Regions from separate parts of the Homo sapiens genome. Here all the other regions are linked to region 2. The links come from fine-mapping of genetic effects on gene expression. A gene starts in region 2. Each other region holds a variant in brackets. All regions are shown on one strand. Distances are from middle to middle.

Evidence for each region.
Region 1: its variant is fine-mapped to the expression of SAP30L in whole blood (INTERVAL, PIP 0.95).
Region 3: its variant is fine-mapped to the expression of SAP30L in whole blood (INTERVAL, PIP above 0.99). The same link has a PIP of 0.9 or more in atrial appendage and esophagus muscle.

What each region holds. Positions count from the first base shown.
Region 1 is chr5:154,493,229-154,503,493 of GRCh38, forward strand. It overlaps the pseudogene LOC100128833 and the pseudogene LOC100271907. Among named protein-coding and RNA genes, the nearest start is that of HAND1, 20 kb to the left of the region's middle. RefSeq lists an enhancer at 10,221-10,265. The variant C/T (reference allele first, on the strand shown) is at 4,695.
Region 2 is chr5:154,440,676-154,450,940 of GRCh38, forward strand. It overlaps SAP30L (SAP30 like), which reads left to right and starts at 5,322. Exons shown (of 4, transcript NM_024632.6): 1 at 5,322-6,130. The coding sequence starts at 5,930. SAP30L-AS1 (SAP30L and GALNT10 antisense RNA 1) reads right to left here and starts at 5,147. Exons shown (of 3, transcript NR_037897.1): 1 at 5,063-5,147; 2 at 2,687-2,805. RefSeq lists enhancers at 4,946-5,065, 5,119-5,619 and silencers at 5,196-5,725, 5,856-5,965.
Region 3 is chr5:154,461,727-154,471,991 of GRCh38, forward strand. No RefSeq gene overlaps it. Among named protein-coding and RNA genes, the nearest start is that of HAND1, 11 kb to the right of the region's middle. The variant G/A (reference allele first, on the strand shown) is at 5,582.

The DNA of each region.
Region 1 (10,265 bases), 53 kb after region 2:
GTGTGATAATGACATTGTACCTATGCTTTTTTAAAAGAGTCCTTTTAGAGACGGCGTCACAGGTGGTGGAGCGCTGGGCGATCAGGCTGCCTAACTGGCCGGCTTGGGCGTCTGGGCGGTGAAGGTGGGACTGCCTGTTCTGGGCAGCAAGTTCCCCTCTCCAGCTGCCCGCCATTCATAACATGTCCGCCAGAACCCGGGAAGCACAGGCAGGGCTGGCTTAGAGAAGACGCGGTCCCCAGCGCTTGGGCCACGGACGTCCCAGCCCGGTCCTCTGTCGCAGGAGAACCGCTGGGCCGAGCCGCTGGGAGAAGCAGGCCAGAGCCTTCCAGAGCCTCCGCCCGAGGACCTGACAAAGAGCGCCTCCTCCTCCGCAGCCGGGTTCCCGGTGGCCTTACCAGCCTCCAGCAGCAGAAGCAACGCCTGATCGAGTCCCTCCGGAACTCACACTCCAGTATAGCTAAAATACAGAAAGATGTGGAATACAGATTGCCATTCACCATAAACAACCTGACAATTAACATATATTGCTTCCTCCACAATTTCCTCAGGAAAAACCAGTGATCAGTGTTTTTCCACCAATACGACATCACTTAATGGATAAACAAGGAGTGTATGTTACTTCTCCATTAGCAAACAATTTTACAATGCACCCAGATCTTGGAAAAATTATTCAGAGTCTGTTGGATGAGTTTTGGAAGAATCCTCCAGTTTTAGCTCCTACTGCAACAGCATTTCCTTACCTATACAGTAACCCAAGTGGGATGCCGCTTTATGCTTCTCAATGTTTTCCATTTCTTCCTCCATATCCCCCAGAAGAAACAAAGAGGAGTTATCACTTCTTTATCTGTTGCTAATACTGTTTCTTCTTCAACAACAAGTCATACCACAGCCAAGCCCGTCGCTCCTTCATTTGGTGTCCTTTCAAATCTGCCATTACCCATTTCCACAACAGATGCTTCAATATTGACAAGCCAAAATGGTTTTGGTTACAAGATGCCAGATGTCTCTGATGCATTTCCAGAACTCTCAGAACTAAGCGTGTCACGACTCACAGATATGAATGAACAAGAGGAGGTATTACTAGAACAGTTTCTGACTTTGTCTCAACTAAAACAAATTATTACTGACAAAGATGACTTAGTAAAAAGTATTGAGGAACTAGCAAGAAAAAAATATCCTTTTGGAGCCCAGCTTGGGAGCCAAAAGGCAAACCGTTTTAGATAAGTATGAATTACTTAAACAAATGAAGTCTGCTTTCAAAAAGAAGATGCAAAGGCAGTGTGAACTTAGTGAGAGCTGTAGTGCAAGTGCCCTACAGGCAACATTGAAAGTAGCTGCACATGAAGCTGGGGAAGAACCTGATAATATTGTGGAAGACTTTGTGGAGGGAAAAATGGAAATAAATGATTTTCTCAGTAGCTTCATGGAAAAGAGAACAATTTGCCACTGTAGAAGAGCCAAGGAAGAGAAACTTCAGCAGGCAATAGCAATGCATAGCCAATTTCATGCTCCACTATAGACATACACTGCCAAATGGAAGAAATTAAAGCCGCTTCCTCAATATTAGGCAACAAAGTTTCTAAGAGTGGGCAGCTACAAGAATGGCGTGTAGTGAGTTATGTTATAAAAATGTGAAAGCCATTACCACTATATCCTAAGTATTTATCATTTTAGCAAGGTATTCCCTGTTACATACAGTATATGGCAGAAAATGAATATACATTCCTTGTACTTAATTTGGGAACTGCTCAGCAGGTAATGCTCAAATTTTATATTCTAAAAGAATTACACTTGCTTTATTTTTTACATTAACAGAGTACTTTTATATCACAGTTCTTTAGTATATTCTTTTTTTTGAGACGGAGCCCAGGCTGGAGTGCAGTGGCACTATCTCAGCTTATCACAGCCTCCGCCTCCCAGGTTCAAGCTATTCTCCTGCCTCAACCTCCCGCATAGCTGGGATTACAGGCATGTGCCAACACGCCTGGCTAATTTTGTATTTTTAGTAAAGAGGGGGTGTCTCCATGTTGGTCAGGCTGGTCTCGAACTCCTGACCTCAGGCGATCCACCCGCCTTGGCCTCCCAAAGAGCTGGGATTACAGGCGTGAGCCACCGTGCCCAGTCACATATTCTATTTTTAAATATGATGAACACAATTACATTTTTTCATTTATATATATATTGCCACACTCCCTCCAAATCTTTCATACTAGAGAGATCAGCAATGTTGCTTTCTTGCCCTTTCTCTTTACTTTGTTCTAATTTCAGCAAAATGTAATACAGTCTCCCATAAAAAATTTACATATTCAAAATATTGATGTAAATTGTAGAGTTTAAATTAATCCTTTTACATTCTAGAATGTACTAGTATATTAAAACCATACAACATGAATATCATTTATCTCTGTCCAAACATGGCAACTTTTCTCCACTAAGTCTCATTTAGGTCACCCAGTGAAGTCTTTGTTTTACTCATAAGTCAGGGGAGTGAATCTCCCTCAAATGTGCATTTTAACAAAACAAAACCCTTTTCAGAACTTTCAGCAGTCAGTGGTCATGAGATGTTACTAATGTTAATTAAACCATATTAGTCAGTTATATAATTTCTAAAAGGATAGATTACAAAATCTAGTCCCTTCATTAAACAGACATGAGAACCAAATACTCTGGTTCTTCACTGGGTTTTCCCTACAGATGTTTTACCCTACTAACTTTATAATGTTATACTTTGATATCAAGCTGGTGGTTGGCCTACACTGTCGGTATTGCAGTCTCTAGAATAGTAATAAAAGGTTGTTATTACAAGAAAGCTAATACTTGAATTCATATATATAATCAGAAGAATGAATGTTGCTTCTACCCTGTTAGGTATTAAGTCAGTGTTAGAGAAAACGTGAGATATAAGTTTTAGCATTTTTAAATAATGAGGAGAAACAGACTAGATCTCAGAGAAATGCAACAAAATTATTCTAACAATTCAAAATATATTATCTAAGGAAAAGTTAAAGTGATGGTTATTCCTAAAAGATAAGCGTAAGCAATTAAAAGCTCTTTAGGAATGTATCTATTAACCAAAAAGGGTGCATCTCAACAATGTTCCTGTTTTTAAAAATATGGATAAGAGGGTCAGAAAGTAAGATAATGTCAGAAGCTTTAGAAAACACAAAATATGGATCTAGAAGTGAACTAAAAGGTTCATGATGATTACAGATGTGAGGAAAAGGAGTGGAGGCTTTTTGAGAGATGCATCCTATGACAAGGAAGATACATACTGATAACTTCAGGTAATGACAGAAGTAATTGCTCTGCAGTGAATATAATTTTCATAGTCTAGGGTGAGCTTCAAAATGGTGAACAATTTTCCTTATGTTTGATAAACAAAATGACAACGTCCTCTTCAATATCTAAGAAATTAAGAGCTGGACACTTTTTTCCCTTTTCATAGCCGCATTAAAATAGTTCTCAATGACAAAAAAAAAAAAGAGCCTCTTTAGAGATATATCCTGAGCTGTTTCTAAGTAAAATGATATCTGGGATTCCCTTCAAAATAATACAGGAGGAGGAATTGGGTGGGAGTAGAGATAAACAAGATTGACCATGAATTGGTAATGGTTGATGCTCTTTCATGTACGTTTTTAAATATAAGGTTTTTTCAATATTCTTCTCTAATAGTAGTTTTTAGCCTATTTTGGTCACATATCCCTTTGAAAATCTTAAGTCAGCTATAGATCCACTTCCGTACAAATCCACCTTTCACAATTTTAGGAGGTTCTGTCTCCTGAAACCCATTGCTGTATCACAGGTTAAGACCTCCTAACCTATAACATAATCTCCTTTTCTAAAGTTTGTATAGTATTTTTCAAGTAGATACATCATAATTCCCTTGACTAATCCCCTTATTGCTGGGAATTTTTATTAAATTATTATTAATAACATCATATTACATGTCTTTGCATATATATTCTTTAGGGCAAATTCCTAATAGTACCAAAAGATATGTTCATTTTAAACACTTTTTTATTTTTTTTTTCAAAGAGAGAGGGTCTTGTTATGTTGCCCAGGCCAGACTTGAACTCTTGGGCTCAAGCAATCCTCCTGCCTCAGCCCCCACAAGTAGCTAGCATTGTAGATACACAACACTGCACTGGCTTAAAGGCTTTTTTTTTTAAAAAAAAAAAAATCACATTGTCCCCAGAAAGTATTGTTAACATATATATATATATATATTTTTGATACTGGGTTTCACTCTGTCACCCAGGCTGGAGTGCGGTGGTGCGATCTCAGCTCACTGCAACCTCCACCTTCCAGGCTCAGGTGATCCTCCCACCTCAGCCTCCTGAATAGCTGGGGCTACAGGCATGCACCACCATACCTAACTAATTTTTTTGTATTTTTAGTAGAGGTAAGGTTTCATCATGTTGCCCTAGCTGGTCTCAAACTCCCGAGCTCAAGTGATCCACCCACCTTGGCTTCCCAAAGTGCTAGAATTACAGGAGTGAACCACCACCCCCAGCCTAACATATTAATATTTTAAAATCAATTCCCATCCCTGGAGTCCTGTCATCAGGATTCAAGCCTGGACAAGCAGCTTGTCCCTGGGCACAATTCGTCTTGCTTTTCTGAGCGTCGATGTCCTCACCTATAAACATGAGGCGCTAAATGAGCGGATTCTTTGATTGTGTCATTTTTTC[C/T]GATCCAGAAAATCCTGGCAAACTCTGTGGCCCTCAGAGTTCTGCCTTGGTTATCGGAGGAGTCTCCACAGGCTCCTAGCCATTCTTCCTGCCCCAGATCTCCATCTGTGATGGTGCACCTTTGACCACCAGGGTGCTCTTCCTACAACATTCACAGGTGGTGGGGCAGAGCTTTAGTGTGGTGGGCTCTTGAGGCAGACTTTGGGGACTGGAATCCTGACTCCAACCAACGGGCAACTTTAGGCAAATGATTTAACCTCTCTCTCTGCCTCAGTCATCTGTTAAATGGGTGTTTTAGATCAGAACCCACTTCACGGGCTTGAGTGAAGATTAATTGAAATAATACACATTAAAGTGTTTATAGGGCCGGGCACAGTGGCTCACGCCTGTAATCCCAGCACTTTGGGAGGCCAAGGTGGAAGGATAGCTCAAGATCAGGAGTTTTGAGACCAGCCTGGGCAACATAGCAAGACCCTGAGTCTACAAAAAATTTAAAAATTAGCCAGACATAGTGGTGCACGTCTATAGTCCCAGCTACTAGGGAGGCTGAGGTGCGAGGATTGCTTGAGCTCAGGAGGTCAAGGTTGCAGTGAGCCATGATCAGAACACTGCAATCCCAGCCTGGTGACAAAGCAAGACCATCTCTCTAAAACTAAAAATAAAAAAAAATAAAACAAAGGGCTTAAAACAGTGCCTAGCATAGTATAAACACTCATCAAACACTTGCTGTTATTATTACATCTCTCTGTCACCCTGCCCCTTCTGAGGACTTTCCTTTGCCTGCAGAGTAACGTGGGACTCCTCAGCATGGGAGCCAACCTTCTTCATCACAGCTCCTCAGACACCTTCCTGAGGGCCTTATCTGCCCTGCACACACCCTACTGTGAAAGCCAAAGAGAACAATGCCTATCCTTAACCCTGCCCTGTGCCCTCCTAAACTGTCCTTCCTTGGTTCCTTGATGGGAACATTTCCCTCTGCCCCAAAGGCATCTCCTAAATGCACTTCCAGAGGAAGGGCCAGGGCTAAAATCTACTCATGCCTGAGCCTAGACTGAGTCCCTGTGTGTGCCAGGCCCTACGTGCACCACAGTTTCCCTGTCTGTAAAATGTGGTGAAGAGACTAGACAACTCTAAGGAAACTTCCAGCTCTGGATAGTTCACTGGTTCCAGAATGAGATTCTCACTTCATTTATACACACTTTGTGACTATCCTTGGGAAGCCTAGTGTGTCATCCCCAGCACCCTGCCCCAGCTGTGAGAAACCCACAGGCCTCCCTCACAGCCTATTACATCAGAGCAACCACACTGGGAGCCATCATGTCACAGCCAGAATGAGAGAATCCAGGTTCAGGAGCCCAGGGAGCCAAAAAACCCCTTCGATCCAACCTGGAGACCTTGAATACATCATTTTCCTATGCAGACACCTCCCCTTCTCTCACCTGGGGAGTGTGACATGTGTCAAATGCACAAACCCTTTGGAGGTGGCATTATGCAGATTTAGGACTGTTGGGCCCAAGCTGGAGTCTAAGTCTCATAACTCAGTGTGACCTTGGGCTCAGGCTCACCAAATCCCAAATGGCCGGGCCTAGTTTTCCTAAGAGACCTTCAGACCTAGCACTCACTTAGGCCCCAATCTGCCAAGGTCATATATTTAAAATGTGGTTCCAAATGTCTTTCCTCAAATAGCCATTATTTGAACACAAAGAACATATAGGCTACAGTGTGAAAGAAACTTGAATTTTGCCTCCTTTTTTCTCTTTTTGCACTTCCTATGAGTCTAGTTATCCTGCCCATGTATGCAAATGTGGACAGAGTCACCAATTTCCTGGTCACTTTAGGTAATAAAAAGTCCTACAACCACTGCCAGTCACTAACTATAGTCTCAGTTCATCGCTCTGCCCAAATTATCAAACCTTCCAACTTGACTTAAAGTTGAGCCTTCTCCCTGCTAGCCCTTGACTCCCCAGCTTGCACTTTTTGCAGGTAAGTTATGAAGCCTGTCAGGGAGGGGCACACTAGGCTTCTTCCCCTGCATGCATCCTTCCCTGAAGAATCTGACAGCCTTGATCTCTGATTCTCTAGCTTCGGAGCTCTGGAGTGAGAGACGGGTTAGAGAAGCTGCTCGCCTGCAGTCCTTTTGCAAGGTGAATATATTTCTATGCTGGCTAGTGGTTTTCTCCTTCCTTAGCCCCTAGGCATCTGTCTAGCAAGACCTCCAGCTCCTTTTGGCTGTCTGCTTGCCCCTCCAGGAGTCCCTTGTGGACAAACCCTAAGATAACCCCCTGCTGGCACCCTCTCTAGCTGTCCCACATGAGTTCACAAAAAATCCAAAGATCTGGCTCTAGTAAGCTCTGGGGGTGAGCACCAGTGCAGCCACTTCACCTCTGCGCCATTGTCACAGCAGTTGACCAGCACAAAGGCTGCCCTCTAAAAGGAACAGGCAGGGTCAAATAGCAACCTGTTGTGTCCACCAAAACACAGGAGACACACCTCGAGCTTGTCTTAGGCCATTCCTGCTGCTATAACAAAATACCTGAGACTGGGTAATTTATAAAGAACAGACATTTCTTTGTCACGGTTCTGGAGGCTGGAAGTCCAAGATCAAGGTAACAGCAGGTTCAATGTCTGGTGGTGGCCTGGTCTCTGCTTCTAAGGTGGCATCTTGTTGCTGCTTCCTCCAGAGGGGACAAATACTGTGTCCTCACTTGGTGGAAGGCAGATGGGCAAAAAGCTACTAGCTAGTTCCCTCCAGACTTTTTATAAGGCACTGATCTCATACTAATCACCTCCTAAAGGCCCCACCTCATAAGACCATCACCTTGGGGCTTCAGTTCCAACATACGAATTTTGGATGGACACGTACATTTGAACCATAGCAGAGCTCTGAGTGGTCACTTTAAAGCACTGTTCTCCTTTCTTGAGATGAAGGGGGACATATTCTTCATTGCTCATTTTTGAGAGAAGGTGTAACTCACAACACATCAACTGCTACTTCAGATATTTCTCCCTTGGCTGGGCACAGTGGCTCATGCTTGTAATCCCAGCACTGGGAGGCCGAGGTGGGCAGATCACCTGAGGTCAGGAGTTCAAGACCAGCCTGACCAACATGGTGAAACCCTGTCTCTACTAAAAATACAAAAGAAAAAAAAAATTAGCCAGGCATGGTGGCATGTGCCTGTAATCCCAGCCACTCAGGAGACTGTCGCAGAAGAATCGCTTGAACCTGGGAGGCAGAGGTTGTGGTGAGCCGAGGTGGCGCCACTGCACTACAGCCTGGGTGATAGAGTGAGACTCTGTCTCAAAACAAAACAAAACAAAACAAAACAGAAACAAATATTTCTCCCTCATCCCCAACTACTTCCAACCCTTTAAAACCCACACACAATACCATAAGGGGTTGAGAGCAGCCAATCTTTGTCAGCTTTGTAAATTTTGCACCATGGTCTTGTTCTTTACTCTGGAATGTGGCATCTCTTCTATGTTGACCTCTCAGCTGGACATTTCAATTTTAATATGTTGTTACACTTATAATAATAGCCACCATTAATTTAATGTTTGCTCTACACGGGGCAGGCTCAGGGCTAATCATGTGTAGTGAATATTTGCTTTTTTTTCCAGCTCTCTGTATCCATCTCTTCCTCTTCTGCAAAGCACCCTGATTTCTTTTTAGATGATTACCTCTCCTTCATTTTGTGTGGCTGGCTGGGACACTCAGTAATGGGTAGTGTAGCAGATGGCTTTGGTGGCCTGCCCAGACACCCTTTATGCTGCAAGTGTTGGATGCTAATGGCTCACAGCTGCCCCCTTCCTTGGAGAATTGCCTGAGGTGATTTACCTGGGGCTACCTGAAAGGTTACACCGCTTCCCCTGGGAGTGGCCTGGGGTCAATGACTAACTAATGTGGAGTAAACCCAGCCCCCTTGCCTCTAGGTGGGACAAATTCACCGGTGCAATTCATACTCCCCCAGCATCAGGCTGAGAGACTAGACTCACCCTAAAACCACATCTTGACCAGCTTCTTCTTCCTTTGCCCAGTACTGCTCTGCTACCTCCTCTTCCCCTGACAGCACTCTCAACAGAATATTGCATGAGAATCCTTGTCTCAGGCTCTGCTTCCAGAGAAACTGACATAACCCAGGTGGGAATGTGACCCAAAAGAGGCCCATCTCCCAGGAAACTGCATCAAAGATAGGAGGAAAAAGAGGTTGAAACCTTACTGTTCTGGTGGTAGCTCCCAACAAGATTATTCCTTATTCCTGTTATCTTGATTCCTGGAGCATCCCTGGTTCTTTCAGTTTTTCTTGGGATTCTCTGTGTATTCCACATCTTGCTCTCTGACAATATCCCTTTTTGCTGACCTTGTAGCCAAACTGTTTCTGATGGCTGCCACCAAAGAACTGTACAAATATAGGATTTAAATGCAATATCTCAACGCTCCAATTGCCCTCCAAAAGCAACAGGTGTTATTATCCCTTCCATTTCTCAGAAGAGGAAGCTGAGCCTTAGAGAGGTTTAGTCACTTGCTTTAGGTAGCACAGCTAGTAAATGGTATTACTAGGAGTTGGGCTCTGAGCTCAGGTCTATCTAATACCAAAACTGTGCTCTTAACAACTCCAATGTGCTATCTCCAAGTGGGAAGAGCAAGCTGCTGTGGCCCACAGCTCTCTACTCCCCACTCTTTGTTAGGTTAATATGCCCATGAGCAGATCGCCATTGCTCCTGAGGCAGTGAGCCTGGAAGGCTAAGTACCTGGGCTTTAGAGTTTCGTTGGCACTCAAGCTCCATCACTTGCTAGTGGTGTCAACTGGGCAAGTTACCTAAGTTCTCTGAGCCTCAGTTTCTTAATCAGTTCAATGGAGACAATAGTGCCTAAACAGGATTGTTGAAAGGATTAAAGGAGGTCTTGAAAGTAAATTGCTTAGCTTGGTGCCCAGCATCTGGTAAGTACTCAATACATTGTAGTTGTTATTCATTATTGTTGTGTTACTTCCTGTCACACAGGGATGGCTTGGAACATATTTCAGCCAATGACATAGCCAGGGGAAGCCCATGGCAAGGACTGTCCCGTGCTCTCTGTCTTTCCTCCAGGTGGCCCACAAGAGATTCCCCACAAGGGCCTGCTTCCGCATTGTTAGGGGCAGGCCTGCAGAGGCCAGGCAGGTGCAGTAATTGACTGGAACAGGTCAAGCTGGAAGGCAGTACTAGCCACAGCCAGTTGTGGCCATTTGGAAAAGTGGACTCAGAGCTGCCAAATCCTGTGAGTTTTCAGGAAAAGCCAGGAATCTAGATTATTACATCAAACTCCCAGTTTTCAAATGTTTTAACTTAAAACACATTTTTTAATGCTGATTTGGCCAAACTAAACCCATATGTAGCTGAATGTGGTCTCAGTTTGCAACTCTGGGTTGGAGGTGCTGGTTGGCGTGGTTGCCGTGTGAAAGTGAAAGCCAACCAGGCTGGCCAATACGGCAAAACCCTATCTGTACTAAAAATACAAAAATTAGCCAGGCGTGGTGGCATGTGCCTGTGATCCCAGCCACTTGGGAGGCTGATGCAGGAAAATTGTTTGAA
Region 2 (10,265 bases):
ACCTGAGCATACAGCCACCAGGAATAAGGGCTACATTTCCCAATGTTCCCCTCCCCCGTTAGGTATGGCGAAATTCTGGCCAAAGAGGTACAAGTGGGAGGCTCACCTACAACTTCTGGGAACTATCCTTAAAGAGCAAGGGTGAGCCCTTCCTCTGCCTTTCCCCCTTCCTCCTGGCTAGAATGCCTCAGTAGATGGGAGTCCCAGCAGCCACCTTGCTTAGTGACGCGACCTTGGGAATGGAAGCCAAACATGGCAAAGCAACAAGAGAAGCCTCGGTCTCTGATGCTGAGGAAAACAATCTGATCACCTCTAGGATTCCTGAAGGTGAGAGAAAAATGTAAGCTTATTTTTGGGTTTTCTGTTACTTGCTAAACCTAATTATGACTAATTAAGCCAATAATAGTATCTAATATTTATTGAGTACCTAATATGTGCAAGGCACTTTTATATCTAATAGTTGGTTTATATCTAATAACTCAGACAGTCTTCACAACAATCCCGAGAGGTTACTATCATCCCCATTTTACAGATGAGGAAACCATGGCAGACTAAGGCCATGTAATTTTCCCAAGGTTCCCAGGCTAGTCAGTGGCAGAGCCAGGATTCCAGCATAAGCTGACTACATCTAGATTTATACCAACCATTATGCTGTACTGCCTCTTGATTCCAGAGGCCAAGTCATCCATCATCCATCTATCCATCCATTCAACAAATATTAATCAAGTGCCTGGGCACTGGAAACTATGATGAGCCATAGAGACAGTTCCCTGTCCTTGCAGAACTTCCAGTCTCAGAACAATGTGAAAGGAAAATGAATCTCGGGACACCAAAATCACTAAGGCAAAGGGAAGAGTCAAGCTGGAAACTGCATCAGGCAAACCTACCTCTTATTTTATTCCTAAGTTAGATAGCTACAAAGATAAAAAAGCTACAGACCTCCCTCACAATTTGCCCACAAGGAAATTCCTTGTGGGCATCAAGATCTTTACCCTAAAACAGTTCTGTTGAATTTCACCCTGGCAATGTAAATGGATAGCTTATCTTCATAGGTGTGGGACAAAGGACAGAACTCAAAGTCATCCCTCTGCTCACCTGAGACAAATGAATATCTGATTGCTTCTTCTGCCCTGTTGTTTATGTAAAAATGCAGATCCACTGAGACAAAGGCATAAATGACTATTCCTCTACCACCCACCTCACCCCTTCCCCACATGTAAATTGTATATTCAGTGAAACGCTGAGCAAAGACTCAAAAGAATGCAACCATTTGTCTCTTATCTATCTATGACCTGGAAGCCCCAGCATCAAGTTGTCCTGCCTTTCCAGATGGAACCAATGTACATCTTGTACATATTGACTGATGTCTCATGTCTCCCTAAAATGTATAAAAGCAAGCTGTATCCCAACCACCTTGGGCACATGTAGTCAGGACCTCCTGAGGCTGTGTCACGTGCACGTCCTTAGCCTTGGCAATATAAACCTTCTAAATTGAGACCTGTCTCAGATACTTTTGGTTCATGCCAACATATCTATGAGTACCTTACAGAACCCAAGGGCAAGCTCAACTACCAGGCCCTGGGGAACACAGGAGGCAGGACCCACCATTAGTGCCTCTGCTCTAACCACTCCCACCAACCACCTGTCAGTTCCAACCAGCAGATTTGCTGGAGAGAAACTGACCAGTACAGTTTGAGCCACAGGCTTAACCCAGCAAGTATTCACTATTAGACAATCAGGGGCCACTCAAGGATTAGAAACCCAGTCACTGGACACCTAAGTGTCCACCTGTTCCCAAAGAAGGGCAGTCATTGGAAATCACTCCCAGAGCCATATGCCACATTCCCCAAAAAGGGAAAAGAGGAGAGAAAGAGGAGAGCAAAGAGCTTTTGTAGGACTGTGACTGCTTGGCCAAGGTATCCAACTCTGATTCTTTAAGGCGTGTTGGGGGATAACTTCTCAACTGGGGCCTGACTGGATGGAAGGAATGAAGGTGGGGAGGGCAGGGGCAGAAAAGACAGGAAAGAAAAAAAGGGTCAGTGAGCCTGGCCCTTAGACCTTGGAAAACTTTGTAGTCTTTGACCACAATTCCATCTCTGGCACTCAGAAAAAATAATAATCCTAAATAATAAAAAGTTTTATGTTCAAAAATAATTATACAGAACCACACAAAAAAGATATCCAACTTCTGGGGGGGCAAATGTAACTACGGTAGGAATCATGATAGCTGACATTTATTAACCACTTATGATGTTCTAGGCACTGTGTTAAGAATTTGTCACCACCTATTTCATCAGACTCAAGAAGTGAAATAATTGCTAACATGTTATAACAAGTCATGGGTGGAGTCCAGATCTGAACCCAGTTCTGACAGCAAAGCCAACTGTCTTTAGCACCACAGTGTACTGTACTACAGAAACTGCACTGTACTACATAAAAAATGGCAACTGTGAAAACTACATAGCAATATGGGGAAAGATTATGATAAAGTATGCCTTGAATAAAGACTACAAAATTATACATAAAGAATGGCTGGGAGCGGTGGCTCACACCCGTAATCCCAGCACTTTGGGAGGCCGAGGCGGGCAGATCACCTGAGGTTGGGAGTCCGAGACCAGCCGGACCAACATGGAGAAACCCCATCTCTACTAAAAATACAAGATTAGCCGGGAGCAGTGGTACATGCCTGTAATCCCAGCTACTCGGGAGGCTGAAGCAGGAGAATCGCTTGAATCCGGGAGGCAGAGGTTGCGGTGAGCCGAGATCGCGCCATTGCACTCCAGCCTGGGCAACCAGAGTGAAACTCTGTCTCAAAAGAAAAAAGAAAAAAGAAAAAAAAAGAACAGTTACAAGCATGAACTCCCCCACCACCACCACCACACACACACACACACACAGAGGCTGGCTGGGCGTATCAGGCTGGGTGTAATCAGGAAAGAGTAACCTTACAGTAATTTGAACAGGAAAATAATAATATAAACATGTATTAATTATAATAGGGGACTGTAGTCCCCTACAGTTATAAGGAACTGCCTAGTAAAAAGAAAAAAGAATGCTAAATAATACAAGAATAGCAGATATAAGTAGCCACTACCTCAAGGACTGAGACAGAGCACCTAAGAAAAGGTCCTAGATCCCCTTAGACCAGGGCAAGTTGGTGCAGAAGAAGTTGTGTACCGCAATAGCCTAGCATTGAATACAAATGCTGTTTAGAAAAATATGGGGAACATGGAGGTTTCATCCATACCAACTGACTTTGGACCCAACATCACACAGTGCCTGGTACAGATACCCAAGTGTTTTCTACATATATGTCTGAACACCCCAGATAGGAGATATTCTTTTAGGGCAAGGGTTATGTTTCATCCTCCTCCTATAGCCAACCCTATACTTGGTATACATAATGAGTTCAACAACAATTTACTTTTGAACAGAATATATGAACTCTGAGGGAAGACTCCTATTAATCTGTGCCTTTTTTCCATTAATTTTTATTCTATTTTTTCTACTGTAAAAACAAAAATAATGCTTATTAAAGAAAATGCAAAGGTTAAACAAAAGGAGAAAAATATCAGCCATATTCCTGCTACCCAGAAATAATCACTGTTAGTACTTTGGTGCATTTTTTATACCAATAGTTTTCTTTTTTCTTTAAACATAGATGTACAGACATCGTATCCTCCATGCAATTTCATATCCTGAATTTTTTTACTTATCATAAAAAAAGCATTTCTCCAACTCCTCATCAGCTCTTTATTTAAGAATTAATGGTGAATTATTCTCTATAGAAAATGTTTACATTGATGTTGAAACTACCTCAAATGCTAACTGCACAATCTCTTTCTGAAGATTTTAGGTAGTTTACTTAACCACTTCCCTTTTGGAACTCTGAGGTTCTATTTTATTTTTCCTATTATAAATAATTCCATAATGAACATCACTGTACTTCATATTATCTCTGATAGGCCTATTTCCGACGATGGCTGTCCCACGTGTGAAATTACCAGTTCAGATGCTACAAATGCATTTATGGCCACTGAGCAAAACTTAAGATCACCAGCCACCTGCTTCTAAACATGGAAACTGGTAGCTTTCCCTTTTACAACAGGACACAAACCCGAAGCTCCTTCTATGCCCTCTAGTACTAACACTTGCTTACCTATCACCTAACACAGCCTCCCCTCTTCCCTGCCCATAAAACGCTGCCCAGCCCTACATAATTACACGACCCTGGGCTGGTCCCATCGCCTTTCGGACCTCATCAGTCCCCATGCTGCGCAGTTGGAGAGTGGCATGACTGAAGTGCTGGACCAGAGCATATCCTACGGCCCCTCCTGGAGGGGAGGTGGTGCCCTGGGCGCCGAAACCAAGCGCAGGGTCTTGGCAGGGCGCAGTCGCTTCGCCGGTAGACCCGGGGACTCAAAGCAATAGAACTACAGCTTGGAGCTCCAGGGAGAGCCCAAGACACCGCAGCCCTTCCCCATCTAGATTCCGAGATTGGCCCCTGGGCCCCACTCCCAGCCTTCACTTCATCTCCCCTGAAGCCCTTTCTCTTGCCCGCGGCTCACCTAGTCCACCCTCCAGACCTCATTCGGACTTCCCATTCTTCCCAGTGGAGGGGTCGCCCAAACCCCTCGGGGTCTCCTTTCCCCCTCTCCTTTTCTTTCCGCGCCGTCCAAGCCAGTCCCACTCTCCACACTCTGGAAGGTATCGGCTACCCCCAATATTGCGACTGCCTTGCAAGATCCCCCCATCACCTCCTCCGCATGTCTTTCCACGTATCTGTATGGGGTTGTCCCTCTGTCTTTCCCGCCATGACTGGCTTTCCGTCCTATTTCACCCACCCTTCCTCCCACGGATCCGCGAGTCCTCTGGCCCTGGCCCTTTCATTTTATTAGTCCGCCCCTCTCCTGATAGCACCTCTATCCTCTTTAGGTCCCCTCATATGCCCCTCCTCCAAGTCTGTCCCTCAGCGTCCCCGTCCGCGTCTCTACTGTCTGTCCCCGAATGTGTTCCTCTGTTCCTGGAGTCTGGCCCTCGGTCCAGCCAGGCCCCTGCTCACCATCCCTCCCCCGGGCCGGAGAGTCTGCAGCCCGGTTCCCGGTTCTCGCTGGGGTAACTCTTTCCTCTTCCACTTTCTCTACTTTGAACCCATCCCAGCAGAGTCCAGGAAGTAGCCTGGCGCCGGAGACTGGCGGCGGCGACGCCCAATGGGACGCGCCAGCGGCGGCGGCAGCCCCGCCCAGAGAGCAAATGAGACCAATGGTCGCGTGAAGGCGGGACTTCCGCTGTCCCGCGAAGGGCGGGGGGAGCGAACTGTTGTGGTGCGGAGCGTTCGGCGGGCGGCGGCCGGGCGGCCCAGGGGCTGCCGCGGGACTCGGGGCGCAGCCGAGTGGCTGCAGGGGTGGAGTGGGCCGGACGAGCCGCGGGGCCCGGGTGCCGCGGGTTCGAGGCCGGGCCCCGCGCGAGGAGGCCGCGCCACCCCGGGGGAGCTGCCCGGCAGCGAGTTTGCCCCGCTGCCGAAAGAAGGCGGGAGCCGGCAGGGGCCTTCGAAACCCCCTGGCAACCCAGGCCCGGAGTCCTTGGGGAGCGGCTGTTTCCTGGGACGCCCTCCCGGACACCCCCGCTGCAGGGTTACGGTTCTGGGCCCCCGGCAGAAGGCTCCTCCGGGTGACCCCCGGCGGGGCCCTGCGAGCCGCGGGAGCCGACCCCGGGGCCTCGAGCCGGGAGGAAGGGGGCTTCCGGAGGCGGAGGGCCGGGGGCCGAGGGAGCCGGGCCTCTCGGACGCGGGGCAGGGCAGCGCCCGGGCTGGAGACGGACTCTGGGACCCTCGGCTGCGGGGGTCTCAGCGACCTGCCCCGCGGCAAGCGCGGCCGCGGAGTGGCCTACCGGGGACCCTCCCCCAGAGGGACCGGCCCGGGGCGGGGAGATGAACGGCTTCAGCACGGAGGAGGACAGCCGCGAAGGGCCCCCCGCCGCCCCAGCTGCCGCCGCCCCGGGCTACGGCCAGAGCTGCTGCCTCATCGAGGACGGCGAGCGCTGCGTCCGGCCCGCGGGCAACGCCTCCTTCAGCAAGAGGGTCCAGAAGAGCATCTCGCAGAAGAAACTCAAGCTGGACATCGACAAGAGCGTGAGTCCGCCCCCGCTCGCGTCTGGGCCCCGGCGCCCCCAGCTCTCCGTCCGCTGCCCTGGGCTCCAGTCGGGACTCCCCGGGCACTCCCCGCCGTGGGCCTCGCCGCCCCGGCTCTGCAGAACTGAGTTGGACTCCGCATTTCAAAGGCCGCTCCAGCGCTGACATGCTCTGACTGTGATTCTACCCAGATCCGGGAGGATGGGGGCGGGGGCTTCAGGACTCCTGCTGCCTGGAAAGATTGGACAGCAGTTTCCAACTTGTTTTATTGGTTTAGACTTTAGAGCAGGGAGAGGTGGGTTAGTTTTGTTGGCCCTTGAAGGAGCAAGAATCGGAGCGGGGAGTGATGAAGATACCCGGCTCTTTTCCAACTTCTCTCTCCTTCTAGGAACCCTGTTATTCCTTCAGACAGAGAAAGGTGGCAGTTACTTCCCTGGCTCCCGCATCCTCGGTATCAGCAGAGGGTCACCGAGCTAGCTGCTTCGCAGGCAGCTGTGGGAATGGGTTTTTCTAGGATGTGGCAGAAATAAGGCCAAGGCCAGGTCTTGAGAAATGGCTCTTGCAGTCGATGTGACTGGAGGGGGGAAGAAAAGAAATCAATTTTCTTAGTGGTAGTTTCTTTTGAAATAAGGGGGTGGATATTTAAATTTAAATCGGATTGCCCTGCTCTTTGTGGCTTATTATAGGAAACTCCTCCCGTGTGACTTCACCACTTCTAGTTAACAATTCTGAAGCTGTGCCTATTGTCAACCAATTAAGAACTTTTTAGTTTGACATCTGTTGCTACAAGCCTTAAGTGATTGCTTCATGATTAGGAATTGGAAATGAGTTAAGGGGATATTTAATATTCAGGTAGACTAGCTAAGAGCTTAGGTGGTTAACATCCATTCTCTTCTAGAATCAGAATTTCTCCACAGTTGGAGGAAATCAGAGACTGCTTGTTAAACTGAAAGGGAGTGCACGTTTCCCCTCTGATTTTAGGGTTGAAACAGGCCCAGAGATAGGAAGTGAGGGTGTCAGGTACACACAGCACCTAAGAGGCTGGTTAATTTCTTAAAGATATTATCTAATTTACTTCCAAGCCCTATACATAAGTCTTCATTAAGTCTCTAATAAATAAAAAATCTCCCCTGTCCTTTTTCTTTTCTTTTTTTTTTCTTTTTCTTTTTTTTTTTTTTTTTTTTTTTTGAGACGGAGTCTCACTCTGTCACCCAGGCTGGAGTGCAGTGGCAAGATCTCGACTCACTGCAACCTCCGCCTCCCGGGTTGAAGCGATTCTCCTGCCTCAGCCTCCTGAATAGCTGGGATTACAGGCGTTTGCCGCCATGCCTGGCTGATTTTTGTATTTTTAATGGAGATAGGGTTTCGCCATGTTGGACAGGCTGGTCTTGAACTCCTGACCTCAAATGATCCACCCGCCTAGGCCTCCCAAAGTTCTGGGATTACAGGCGTGAGCCACTGCGCCCAGCCCCTGTCCTTTCTTCAGACTCTTCCCTCCTACCCCCATTTTTAAGTTAATCATTATAATACAGTTGCAGCTCTTGCATGGACAGGTGCTATTTTTAAGTGGTTGGGAGAGAGTTAATGGCTTTCTTACTACAAATCTCTATCAATGAATGCATGAATGGAAATATCTGAGAACAAACAAGGGTCTAGACACCAAGGTGATCCCTCCTTAGGTCACACGTTGAGGTGAAATGCTTATGGCAATGAATTCATCCACTTAGAAACACTGCCTACCTTCCGTGTAGGTTGTTAGAAGCTGCTTTACTTGAGCAGCTTATAATAATAATTTCCAGTCCTTAAAAGAATCTTCCAGTCCTTTTAGATCACTGGATGCCTTCCCATCTGAATGATTTTGCTGCTGCAACTGGGACTCCTTTTATTTACCCATTGACTGTACTGGAAAACCTGTGTTGAGCTATGCTGATCATTTCACACACACTGTCTAGAAGAAGGGCAGCCTGAGCCTAGCATTAGTGTTCCCAAAATGTAATACTTCTGAGGTAGTAAGGTTTCCAGGTGGAATCACTCAAAATTTGTTTTAAGGTGGTGTTGTGGAGTCATTATTTCTGAAAGGGATTCTATTTCTTTCTCACAGGCTTGGGCAGGAATTCAATTCCAGGTAACTGGTATGTTACAAGAATTTTTAGCTATTGCAGAAAGTGAAGGAAAAAAAAAAACTAGAGCCTTTGCTACCACCCTCCTGCCCCAACCCCACTCCCAAAGGCCACTGAGCTCTGAAATTTCTGAAAACCAGTATGTACTTGAAAATGGTTAAGGAGAAAATGATTATTTATCTTGTAAGAGAGTCTAGCAGAGAACCTTTTTAAATAACAACACCAGAAATTCAATTCAGGCTGTTTAACTCATTTTATATAGACTTTGGCAGTGTTCTGTGATCTGTTAAAATACTAATATACCTCCAGTTGACATATTTCTGCTTTTTTTTTCCTGGAGAAAAGTGGAAGTTGAGAATAGTATAAAGGAAAATGCTGGAGTAGGAAAAGACATGTACTGGGGGGGCAGAAGGCCTGGGTGACCTTGGCCAGGTCATTTCCTCACTCTGGATGGCTTCATTTTACCCATTTAGAAAACGGATTGGGGTCAATGGGATTGCACTAGTGATTGCTAAGTTCTCTTACAGCTAGGATTCCGTTATTCTATTGTCCTGATCTGAAATCTCCCAGCCAAAGCTTTAGGAAGCCACCTATTCTCCCTGTTCTCCTATGAAGTTTGTTACTGTGAACTTGAGGAGCAGTTGATCTGAGTGGACTCGCCAGTCTAGCTAACATGGAGGGCTAGCTTCCTCTCAGGGATGCAGAGTGTGCTTTGTTGTGCTTTCTTCCTGGAGAAAAGCATGTCCAGTAGTATATACATCAGCTAGGTGGGATTCTTTGGGACAGTGGCATGTGCTGTGTTTGAAAGTCCTTTGACAGAGTTGAATCTGACAAAGCTATCCCAGTTTGTAACCATGTTAAGTGGTGGCTTTCATTAGCCTTAAGCCACTTTTAGATATAGGAGACTTCCTATATTGGTACATCAACATTTTTCGAGTACCTCCTGTCTGCAAGACACCATCACAGTATAAACTTAAAAGTACTTATGACTCACTAATCCAGCCACATGAAAGTGATCATTCATCTGAATAAATAAATAAACAGTTTTCATTATTTTCTCCATGAAAAGGTCTGAATTAATTGATGCGGATTTCCTGCCAGCTTACTTTTATCTTTAAGGATTTAAGGAATAAACTCAAATTCAGAAGTCTCTGCAGAACATTTGTGCAACAGCTGTTTCAGTATCAACAACCCCAAGTCATTTGCTGGGCATTCAGTTTCTGTAAAGTTTTTCAGTGGTTCCTCCAGCCAGCCTTGGAGGATTCTTCATGTCTTAGCTGTTGCTGCCACCTTCACTTACCAGTGTGCCTCCAGCCTGTATTAGAAAATCTGTAGTATCCACCTTCTTGTATGTGGTTCTACCTTGTAAGAACTTCCACATCTTTTTCCACTTTTCTTTGTGGATCAGATGTGAGATAATGCAAGAATTATAAATTGACACATAGAAACAAAGTTTTTCAAAGAGTTATTATCCTACAATAGTAGCTATTGTAATTGTAAAAATAGAGTGTCCCAAATACCGTTGCAACAGTCCCTTGTGTCCTGCTTTCCTCCTCCCCAGGACAGTACATTCCAGTCGACTATAAGTTTATGACTCCTACAGGTCTTCTAAAAATGTCACATCACTTCCTGCTTCCTTGAGGGACTCTGTCTTGTCGGAAGGAAAGTCTAAGCTGTTCTCATGCCCACCCCCCTGATGCCTCACTTTTTCATTATGCTCCTACATGGGCAGCCATCATCACCCAACTGACACTGTACCCTGGGCCTCCTCACTCTTTCTGTCATCCTCCATTGGAAACTCTAAAGTCTTGGCACTCCTACCCATCTGGAATGCTTCCTGTCTGCCTAAAGTCCTCCCTTTTAGTCAGGGCCCTTCACCCTGAGCATCTCTGTTGCAGGGATCTCTTCCTTTGCTGAATCTGTACCATTTACTGTCTTCACCATTCACTGGAAGTTTGGTGTATGATACGCTGCCAAGTGTGATGTTAGCATTCTCTTTGTGTTCTGCAACTCAG
Region 3 (10,265 bases), 21 kb after region 2:
AGAATCTGCATAGTAGCAAATTCCCTAGGGATACTACAGCTTGAGAAGCCAGGGCAGTATGACTGCACGTTCCTGGTGGAGGTCCCTGAGGCTACCGGATGACGCCTCTCGCCTGTCCTCACAGTGCTAGAGAAGAGAAAGGCAAGCCTCAAGTTCAGGTCTCCCACTTCAAGCCTGTCTCTAGTGCCACTTTACCACAGCTTTGTCCTCAGCAGAATGAAAAGGGAGAAGTGCAATAAATATTTGTCTTTATCATATTAGTTACATAGAAGTAATACATCTTAGCTCTAAAATTTTAAGCCTTACAGAAATTTTAAAAGTGCAGATCCTTTCCTTCCCACATCCTTCTCCTCTCCCATTCCACTCCCCTGTAAGGAGTGTGGAGGGTGGCTTTTCATGAGATATTTGAGAGGACAGGAAGTCCTGGCTCTCACCAAGGAGCTCACAGAATTAGTGATGGATTGTTGCTGAAGGACACCATCATTTACAGGGTCCCTGAGTTGCTTTAGAAAGCAAAGGAAGTTCCAGTTTTCATACTGTGTTTCTTAGCATAAGTAGTTGCTTCCCCTCCTCTGCCATCCTCCCATTCTTTTTTTTCTTTTTTTTTTTTTTTTTTGAGACGGAGTCTCACTTTTTCACCTAGGCTGGAGTGCAGTGGCGCAGTCTCGGCTCACTGCAAGCTCCGCCTCCCGGGTTCATGCCATTCTCCTGCCTCAGCCTCCTGAGTAGCTGGGACTACAGGCGCCCACCACTGCTAATTTTTTGTATTTTTAGTAGAGACGGGGTTTCACCGTGTTAGCCAGGATGGTCTCGATCTCCTGACCTCGTGATCCACCCGTCTTGGCCTCCCAAAGTGCTAGGATTACAGGCGTGAGCCACCGCACTCGGCCTCTCCCATTCTTTTATACTGTGTCTAACCATGGGGGCCTGCCTGCTGTCCTCACACACTGAATGGCAAAGGGGTGCTTTGTCCCCACACTTTGAAAACTGGCTGACCCCCTGCTGCAGTAAACATCCCTTGATGATCCACAGATATCAATTTAATGGAAAGATGGAGATGAACCCACATGTTAATATGCTATTAGAACAGAAGTTTCACGAGGAACCCAACACCCTTTTATTTTCTTTTCAAAATAGAGCTTTAGGACATCGAATATCAGATCATCTGAGGTCCGGTGTTTTAATCCCAGCACTTTGGGAGGCCGAGGCGGGCGGATCACAAGGTCAAGAGATCAAGACCATCCTGGCCAACATGGTGAAACCCTGTCTCTACTAAAAATACAAAAATTAGCTGGGCATGGTAACACGCACCTGTAGTCCCAGCTACTCAGGAGGCTGAGGCAGGAGAATCGCTTGAACCCGGCGGAGGTTGCAGTGAACCAAGATCGTGCCACTGCACTCAGCCTGGCGACAGAGCAAGACTCCATCTCAAAAAGAAAAAAAGTGTGGCACTTGCCACCCCTTACCCCCATCAGAATCCCCTAAGCACTCTGTTGCAATGCCAATTCCTGGGCCCCCATTCCAGATCCTCAGAATGAAAAGCTCAGGGTCTAAGTCCCAGTAATAATGATTTTTAAAATTTCTCCAGGTAAGACTTAAGCTCAATAAAGTTGAGAAGCACCAATCTGGTCCAGAGGTTTCCCAATCCCAGCACAGAGATGAACAGCTTCAGTATCACCTGTTCAAATACTAGTTAAAAGTTCCCCTTGAGCTCTCTTTCATGAGAATTTTCTCAAGTGAAGCCCAGGAAACTATGTTTTTATAAAATCCTCTCGGATGCTGGGCGCGTTTTATAAAATCCTCTCGGATGCTATAATCGCAGCAATTTGGGAGGCCGAGGTGGGTGGATCACTCGAGGTCAAGAGTTCGAGACCAGCCTGGCCAACATGGCGAAACCTTGCCTCTACCATACAAAAACATTTAGCTGGGCATGGTGGCACATGCCTGTAATCCCAGCTACTAGGGAGGCTAAGACAGGAGAATCGCTTGAACCCAGGAGGCGGAGGTTGCAGTAAGCCAAGATTGCACCACTGCACTTCCAGCCTGGGCGACAGAGCAAGATTCTTATCTCAAAAAAAAAAAAAATCCTTTCAGAAATTTATCTGCACATCCAGGTTTAGGAACCACTGAGTCCAATCCCCTAAGGCCCTGGTCAAGAAAGTATTATAACTATGTTACGTTCAGCATCAAACAGCTCAGAAGTGGCAGAGTCTGAGCAAACAGAGTGGCTGACACTGTTGTCATTCAAATGGATGATCTTCAGTCTGCAGAAAACCAGAATGAAAATAACCCACCATTCCAGCCCAAGACCTGACACAGAGGAGGACACTATATTTATTTAGTACTGGGACTGAGTCTTCTGTGTACTCAACAGTTTTTTGTCTACAAAGATCTTCTATATTCAGGAATAATAATAGCTATCAAGTACAGAGTCCATGCCAGACAATGGCTAATAGTTTTATGTGCATTAATTCATTTAATCTCACTACAATCATACAAAGTAGGAACTATTATTAACTCCAATTTATAGAGATGTAAATACAGTCTCAGAAAAGCTGAGGAACTTGCCCCAGTAACAATGAGAGCCAAAGAGGTAAAGGCACTCCCAGGATGGATCCCCAAGGCTTGCCTCGCTCTAGGGATACTGCTGTCAACCCCACCGTCCAAGAACTCAGAATGCCAAGCTCTGAAGCAGCGCAGCTACAACAGTTACCCTTGTCCCAATCAACTGGATTTACTAAACTTTAATGAGGGATTTTGAGAAGTCACTAGGACTCTAGTTAAGAAATTTAATAGGGTTTAATGGAGGTTAACAAGGTACATCCAACCTTCTAGCCAGGTTTTAACTTACCAGAGCTGAACAGAGATTAACAAGCCCAGGAGGTGTAAAGGCACCTGCATGATTTAATGGGGTTAATGAAACTGTCAGAGGTTGGCTGAGAGGGAGAGAACTGGAGCATGCTGCTGTTAACAGTCGATCTGGTTGAGGTCAACAGACATTTATTAAACAGCTGAAGCCTGCCCTGTTCTGCCCTGGGCACCACAAGGGTAGCCAGTTAAGAAAGACCACAACTGATATGGCAACCATGGTTAGTCCTGGTTGGTGATTTTGGAGTAAATTTGACTCTCTTCTTTGTGCTTTCTTGGTATCATCTAAACTGGTTATAATGAACACAAATCATTTTCACCGTAACTGTAAAATAGCAAAGCATTTTTAAGTGCCTTCAAAGCACTTACTACCTGCTTGCATAGTTTACTTTACATATTCCCGAAACATATAGAAAGTAGTAAGAGAAGTAAAAGCAACAACAATAATACAACCTTAAATTTGAGCAGCACTTAAAGTGTTGTACAGCGCTGTCATCCATCACTTCTGTGAGTTTTTGTCACGCTATGAAACAGTGATATACAAAGTCACACTGGTAGTGGAGAAGACAGAGAAAATCTTCATCTTCCGCCTCCCGAATTGGTACTGTTTTTTCACTGAGCACTTACAATGTGACAGTCCCAATGGTAAGTAAGCACTGTACATGCCTTGATAACCCTATGAGATGAGTATTATTATTATCCCCATTTTATAGATGAAAAAATCGTTTAGAAGGGTGAAGTGGCTTGCCCAAGGTCACCAGGAAACGGTGGGGATGAGTCACACAGGTTCCAGCGTCCACTATGTCATGCTGCCTAATACTTGAGTAAGATAATATTTCGCAAGAGCATTGTTTAGAACAGTGAAGAACTGGAAACAGCCTATATATCAAATACTAGGAGACTGGTCTTGAAAGCATTATACATATGTCATAATTGTAAAATAATGTTTAATGACATAGAAAGATATGCATATCAGCTTAGAAATACTATATATGTAAACATATGTATACAGAGTATCTATATACAACTATATGGAATATGTATCTGTATAGATATATGTTTATATACATAGTATACATGTATATTTATACACACATATCTGTAACTATGACCATATATAATTTTTTTTCTTTGAGACAGGGTCTCACTTTGTCACCAGGTGATTGGAGTACAGTGGTGCGATCTTGGCTCACTGTGGCCTCAACCTCCCAGGCTGAAGTGATCCTCCTGCCTCAGTCCCCCAAGTAGCTGGGACTACAGGCGTGCACCACCACCATGCCTGGCTGATTTTTTTGGTATTTTTTGTAGAGATGGGGTTTTGCCATGTTGTTACCCAGGCTGGTCTCGAACTCCTGAGCTCAAGCAATCTGCCAGCCTTGTCCTCCCAAAGTGCTGGGATTATAGGCGTGAGCTACCATGCCCAACCCTGCTATGACCATATTTATAGGTAAATCAAAGCATCTACTTGCTAACTTCATGTGTAGCCACACTCTATCTATGTGATTCAGAGTAAGGGGAAAATACCAAGGAAAAGGCATTCTGAAAAGTAGGGGAGCTTCCCGGAAGAGGAAGCACCTAAGCAGGCCCTTGAAGGAAACAGGTTTGATGAGATGAGAGTGAAGGGAAGTCCAGGCTGATGTGACAGTGAATGAGGAGCAGAAAGCCTCATGCTGGAATGAGTACCTTGAACTTTGGAGTCATCAAACCTGCTATTATTAAAAAAAACAACCCATTGATGAAATATGGTCACAAAAGTATTTGAGTATCTGCTGTGGGCCAGGTGCCAAAGGAAACGGACTCTGTCCTCCAGGAGCCAGGAATTTCAGAGGAGCTAAGACTCAGACAGGAGTGGGAAGTAGTCCTTCAACTACTAAAATCATAGAATCTGTGATGAAAGCTCGGAGCCCTGCGTCAACCCTACTTCTGAGGAAGGAGCAGTGCATAACGGGCACTTGAAGTCTTAGAGAAGCCAATGAGGGTTAGCAAATGTAATGAGCTTAATTAAGCTAAAACAGTTAAAAGAGACTTCCTGAGGGCTCATAGCCACTAGCAAGATTGGCCTTTGTTAAGTGAGCAGTGGGAGGTTACCTGTGCCCAACCAGAGCCTCTCCTGCCTAAGTGATGGGGGATGCAGGAGTGGACCAGGCTTCAAAGGGAGCCATCCAGTCAGCTGGGCTGGGACAGGTTCAGCAGAGCTCAGACTCAGCCACGCGCACTAGCAACTGCCAGAAGGTGAAGCTGTATCTAATGAAACTTACTGAAGCCCAAAGAATGAGGACTGAGGGAATCAATTACTCACAAGACCGCAGCCTGCCTACTGGGGTTTATCTAAACTAGATGAAGTTGAACTTGGCTGAGTCAATTTAAACAGTTCCAAGGGGGCTCCTTCATCTTCAGCGAAGGGTGTTCTATCTCTGGTGGCTAATATAGTTTTCAAATGTATGCTATTCGTATTTCTATCAAGGAATATTTCCAAAGCTGGATATGAAAAGATGGTCAGGATGGCCCAGCTGCAGAAATATAGCTATTATTTGTTAAGCACCGACTGGGAAGTAGACACTGTGCTAGGGTCTTTGTATATGGTCCTAATCCTCACACAGACCTGCAAAGAAGCTATTATCATTGCTAGTTTTCAGATGGGAAAACTACAGCTTGGAGAAGTCAGGTGACTCACCCAGGGTCTCACAGTGAACTGGGATTTGAGCCTATGTCA[G/A]TCTGACTCCCCTGTGCACCATGCAACCTACACCACAGAATGAAGTGGAATATTGACCATGCTGGGAAGATGGAAGAGTGGTAAAAGCTGTTGGAAGAACTCAGGATCCCAGCAACCTGGGTTATTTAGTGCAGGGGGAAACTGCCCTCTGTGTTCCATTAGCCCTGTGTAGTAGTGGCAGAAATATTCTGAGTTACTAGGAGAGGACTGTGTTTGTTCAGTGGCTTCTATTCAAAGGAACAGGAAAAAAAAGTGTGGCGCATTTCAGATTTCACATAGTAAGGAAACACAGATCCCTGTCCCTAAGGCATATTTAGGTAAGAAGGCCTCAGAGATCTTGGGTTACAAAACCCCAGCGTCCCTCAGGAGTTAGGCTCACACCCAGGACTCCTGGTTTTGTGAACTTGCTGAGTCCCTTCTCTACGCCCCTGAATTGCCAGAGGAAGTTAAAGAAAGGGAGTCCTGGGGCTCCGGGCTCACCTTGCAAGGAGGAGTCTGGGATCCTGTCTGGTTTCTCTGCGCTGAGAGTGCAGAAGAGGGAGTATGGCCACCAGGTGGCGCCCTCCCCTCAATCGGTGGCAGCCTCAGGCCACAGGGGAAGGCCCTAGGAGTATTTTCTGTCCCTCATAGAGATGCTGTATTTGGTGAATACTTCGATTCACACCGTTGTAAAAATCCTAGAGAGTCCATGCAGAAAGGGACTTAGATCTGGTCCCCCTTCCTTGTTTTACAGAGTCCAGCTGGGGCAAGGAAGTACCGAAGGTCACACAGCAAACTGAACCCCCTTCTCTTGCCTTCTGGGGCTAGTGCTTTTCCTGCCACACTAGCTGTTCTTGCACTTCCAGCCACACCTCCCACGCCTCACCGTCGGACAGCCTGCGCTCTACCCTCAGCCAAGAGCCTGGTCTCAGGGTGCCCTGAAGGGCCACGCTGTCTTCGCCTTTCCTGCCACACTCTGTCGCTTCCCAAGCAGGCCCAGCAGCTCAACCTCAACCACAACAGCAGCAAGAACAGCTCGTGTTTACCACCGGCCTGCTCCAGGCCAGGCTAAGAGCTTCCCAGGTCCTCAAAACGCTTCTAGACGCTACTCTGCCTTCCCTTTTTTTTTCTCTCTTTTTTTGAGAATTTTTTTTGAGACAGAGTCTTGCTCTGTCACCCAGGCTGGAGTGCAGTGACGCGATTTCAGCTTACTGCAACCTCCACCTCCCAGGTTCAAGCAATTCTCCTGCCTCAGCTTCTCGAGTAGCTGGGATTACAGGTGCACGCCCCCATGCCCGGCTAATTTTTGTATTTTTTTAGTAGAGACGGGGTTTCCCCATGTTAACCAGGCTGTTCTCCAACTCCTGACCTTGTGATCTGCCTGCCTCGGTCTCCCAAAGTGCTGAGATTACAGGTGTGAGCCACTGCGCCTGGCCTCTGCCTTCCCTTTTACAGAAGTGAGCTGTGGGTCTCAGAAAGGTTAAAAAACCTGCCCATTGCCATGCAGCTCATTTCACCAACTCACCTAGTTTTGAGTACAGGCCTGGGGGGCCAGTCTAGACCTCCCTGTTGACCTTGGCCAGGCCTCTTGTGCTAATATGTTTTCTGTTTCAAAACACTTTTTTTTTTTTTGAGACAAAGTCTCACTCTGTTGCCCAGGCTGGAGTGCAGTGGCGCTATCTCAACTCACTACAACCTCCACCTCCCAGGTTCAAGCAATTCTCCTGCCTCAGCCTCCCAAGTAGCTGAGATTACAGGCATGTGCCAACACGCCCTGCTAATTTTTGTATTTTTCGTAGAGATGGGGTTTCACCATGCTGGTCAGGCTTGTCTCGAACTCCTAACCTCAGGTGATCCACCCACCTTGGCTTCCCAAAGTCTTGAGATTACAGGCGTGAGCCACCGCACCCAGCCTTCAAAACACTTTCAAAGATCTTTTCCCACTTCAGCGTGACAGGAGTTCTGTTGCGGGGAGGAAAGATATTGTTAGCCCATCTTAGAGATTAGAAAACTGGGGCACAAGGAGATGACTGGACCAAGGTCACCTGACTCATAGTAGACTTGGAACTGGAACTAGGTGGGACACTCCAAAAGGCACTCCACATCTTACTGCCCAGCTATAGTCCCCCTACTGTCTCTGGGAGTCACGGAACTGAGTGGCTGAAAGGGCAGGTTTTCGAGTCAAATGCATCTGGGTCTGCAGCCCAGCCCTGCCACTTAATAGTTATGTGCCTGGACCAGGCACGGTGGCTCTCGCCTGTAATCCCAGCACTTTGGGAGGCTAAGGTGGGAGGATCATTTGAGCTCGAGACCAGCCAGCTGACAAGCTGAAACCGCATCTCTACTAAAAATACAAAAAGTTAGCCAGGTATATTGGTCAGCACCTGTAATCCCAGCTACTCGGGAGGCTGAGGCAGGAGTATCGCTTGAACCTGAGAGACGGAGGTTTCAGTGAGCCGAGACGGCACCACTGCACTATAGCCTGGGCAAAAAGAATGAAACTCCAACTTAAAAAAAAAAAAAAAAAGCCCCTGGTTTTGAAGGCTTAGTATGAAAAAAAAAGAATGTAAAATATCTTACTAATAATTTTTAGATGGATTCATGTTGAAATTCTATTTTGGATATATTAAGTTAAACAAAATACATTATTAAAATAATTTCACCTGTTTCTCTTCTCATTTTTATTGTGGCTACTAGAAAATGTTTAATCACCTATGTGACTCGCACTTATAGCTTGCATGATAGTTGTACTGTACAGTGCTGCCTGAAACAGTTTCAGAAATTCAACGGCTACAGGCTGCCTTCCCCCTGTGTTACCTTAATGATGTGGACTATAAGGGCTTTGAAGCAGGAATTTGCTCACTGGGTGTGTGTCCTTGAGAAAGTCACTGAAATCTTCTGCATCTGTTGGAAGTATGCCCTGAGTCTCCAAAGCCAGCAAACAAACCAAAAGAAACCCTCAATGCTTCACAAGACTGTTATGAGGATTAAATAAAATAATAAAAATAGCTCTACCATGGGCAACGCGCTAAGTGCTTTGCATGCCTTATCTCTTTCCATCCTCACAGACCCAAGGATGTTGGGGGAATGATTGCTCTCATTTTGTAGATAAGAAAACTGAGGTTGAGAAATGTTCAGTAACTTGTGAAGAAAACTGAGATTGGGAAATGTTCAGTAACTTGTGCAGGGACTCCTGGCCCTTGTATTGTTCTGTTCCCTGCACTAAAAGTAGAAGGTATTAAATAAACAAAGGGAAGAGAAGGGCACAACTTCCCTGAGATGCTGGGCAAGTCCCTCTCCTTTGTGAGCCTCAGTTTCTCCTTCTGTAAATGAGGGACATGCTTGGATGGTGGGTAAAGACCTTTGAGGTCTCAGTGTTATGGGGTGTGTTCACATTTCAGTGAACATAAGCCTTTCAGGACTCCTCTAAAGTCCGATGCTTTCCATTGTCTATTTTGTGGGGATAAATGTGCATTTCTGTTTGTTTTAATAACATTTGTAGGAGCTTTATATAGTGTCTACGTCTGCTTACATTAGATGCTGTGTATTATAGTTAAGAGTCTTTCACGATTTCCCATATAAACCTAGTTTTTTATGAGTTTGGGAGAGCTCAGCTGTAAAAACTCTCTCAGCTGAAAAAATTTTGTTTCTAACAAATCAGGTTTAAATCAGGAGGCTGGTTTCAGACACTTCAGAACGTGCATATTTTTTCTCTTCAGTCACTCTTCATTTAAAAATGAGATTGGCTGATTTCTTAGTTTCGTTTCTTTTGTGAAGATTTAGCAAGACTATAAGGTTAACCAATGGTTGCATAGACAGAAGGTATCCAGTGCCTTTTCCGTAAGAACCCTGGGTTTGAGGCGCACCTTCTAATCCGGGCTCAGCCTTTGACTGGCTGTGTGACCCTGAACTGGTCACATCAACTCTCTTGGGTTTGCCTTTCCCACATCTGTCCATGGGGAGCATCATTCCTGCCTTGGCTGTCTTCCAGATTATGGGGAGGAAAATGCACTTATAAAAGTGGAAGTACCCGGGTAAGGTAAATGTGCCAGGCAAACACCAGAGACTACTGCAAAGAATAACGTGCTGAATTCCTCACCAGGAGAAAGTAGATTCCTGGAATCAGAATGTTACTAACAGGAAACCACCTTGGAGCCTACCCTTTTCCTCATTTTCTAGATGGGATCCACTCAGAGCCCTGACAGGGGAAGAGGGTTCCAGGAGAATGCTGGAATTTGAATCCCAGATCCTTTCACGTAACTCCTTCCTTCTTTTTTTCTCTACCTTACTTTGGGGACTAAGGAAGATCAGACTGAGAGAAACTGTATTTGGGCACATATGTATGTATACACACACACACACACACACACACACACACCTGGAGGTGCTCCGAGATGTGGGGGAAACAGGTCTCTGGAGGTAGCCATGTTTGCACTTTGATACAAGTCCTATCTGCCATCCATGTGACCTTGGACAAAATCCTTCACCTCTCTACGCCTCAGCTCCCTCAATATTGACCTCACGGAACCCTGTGAGGCTTATATGAAATAATGCATGCTGAGTTTAAATACTTTTCTTTATAAATGTTAGCTGTTACTATTCCATTCATCAATAGACTTTAAATGTAAGAAAAAAAGACTATTTGCTGTGTACGAGGAATAATAAACTCTTCAGGACAAATATTTTCTGTTGTATGTTAATTGAT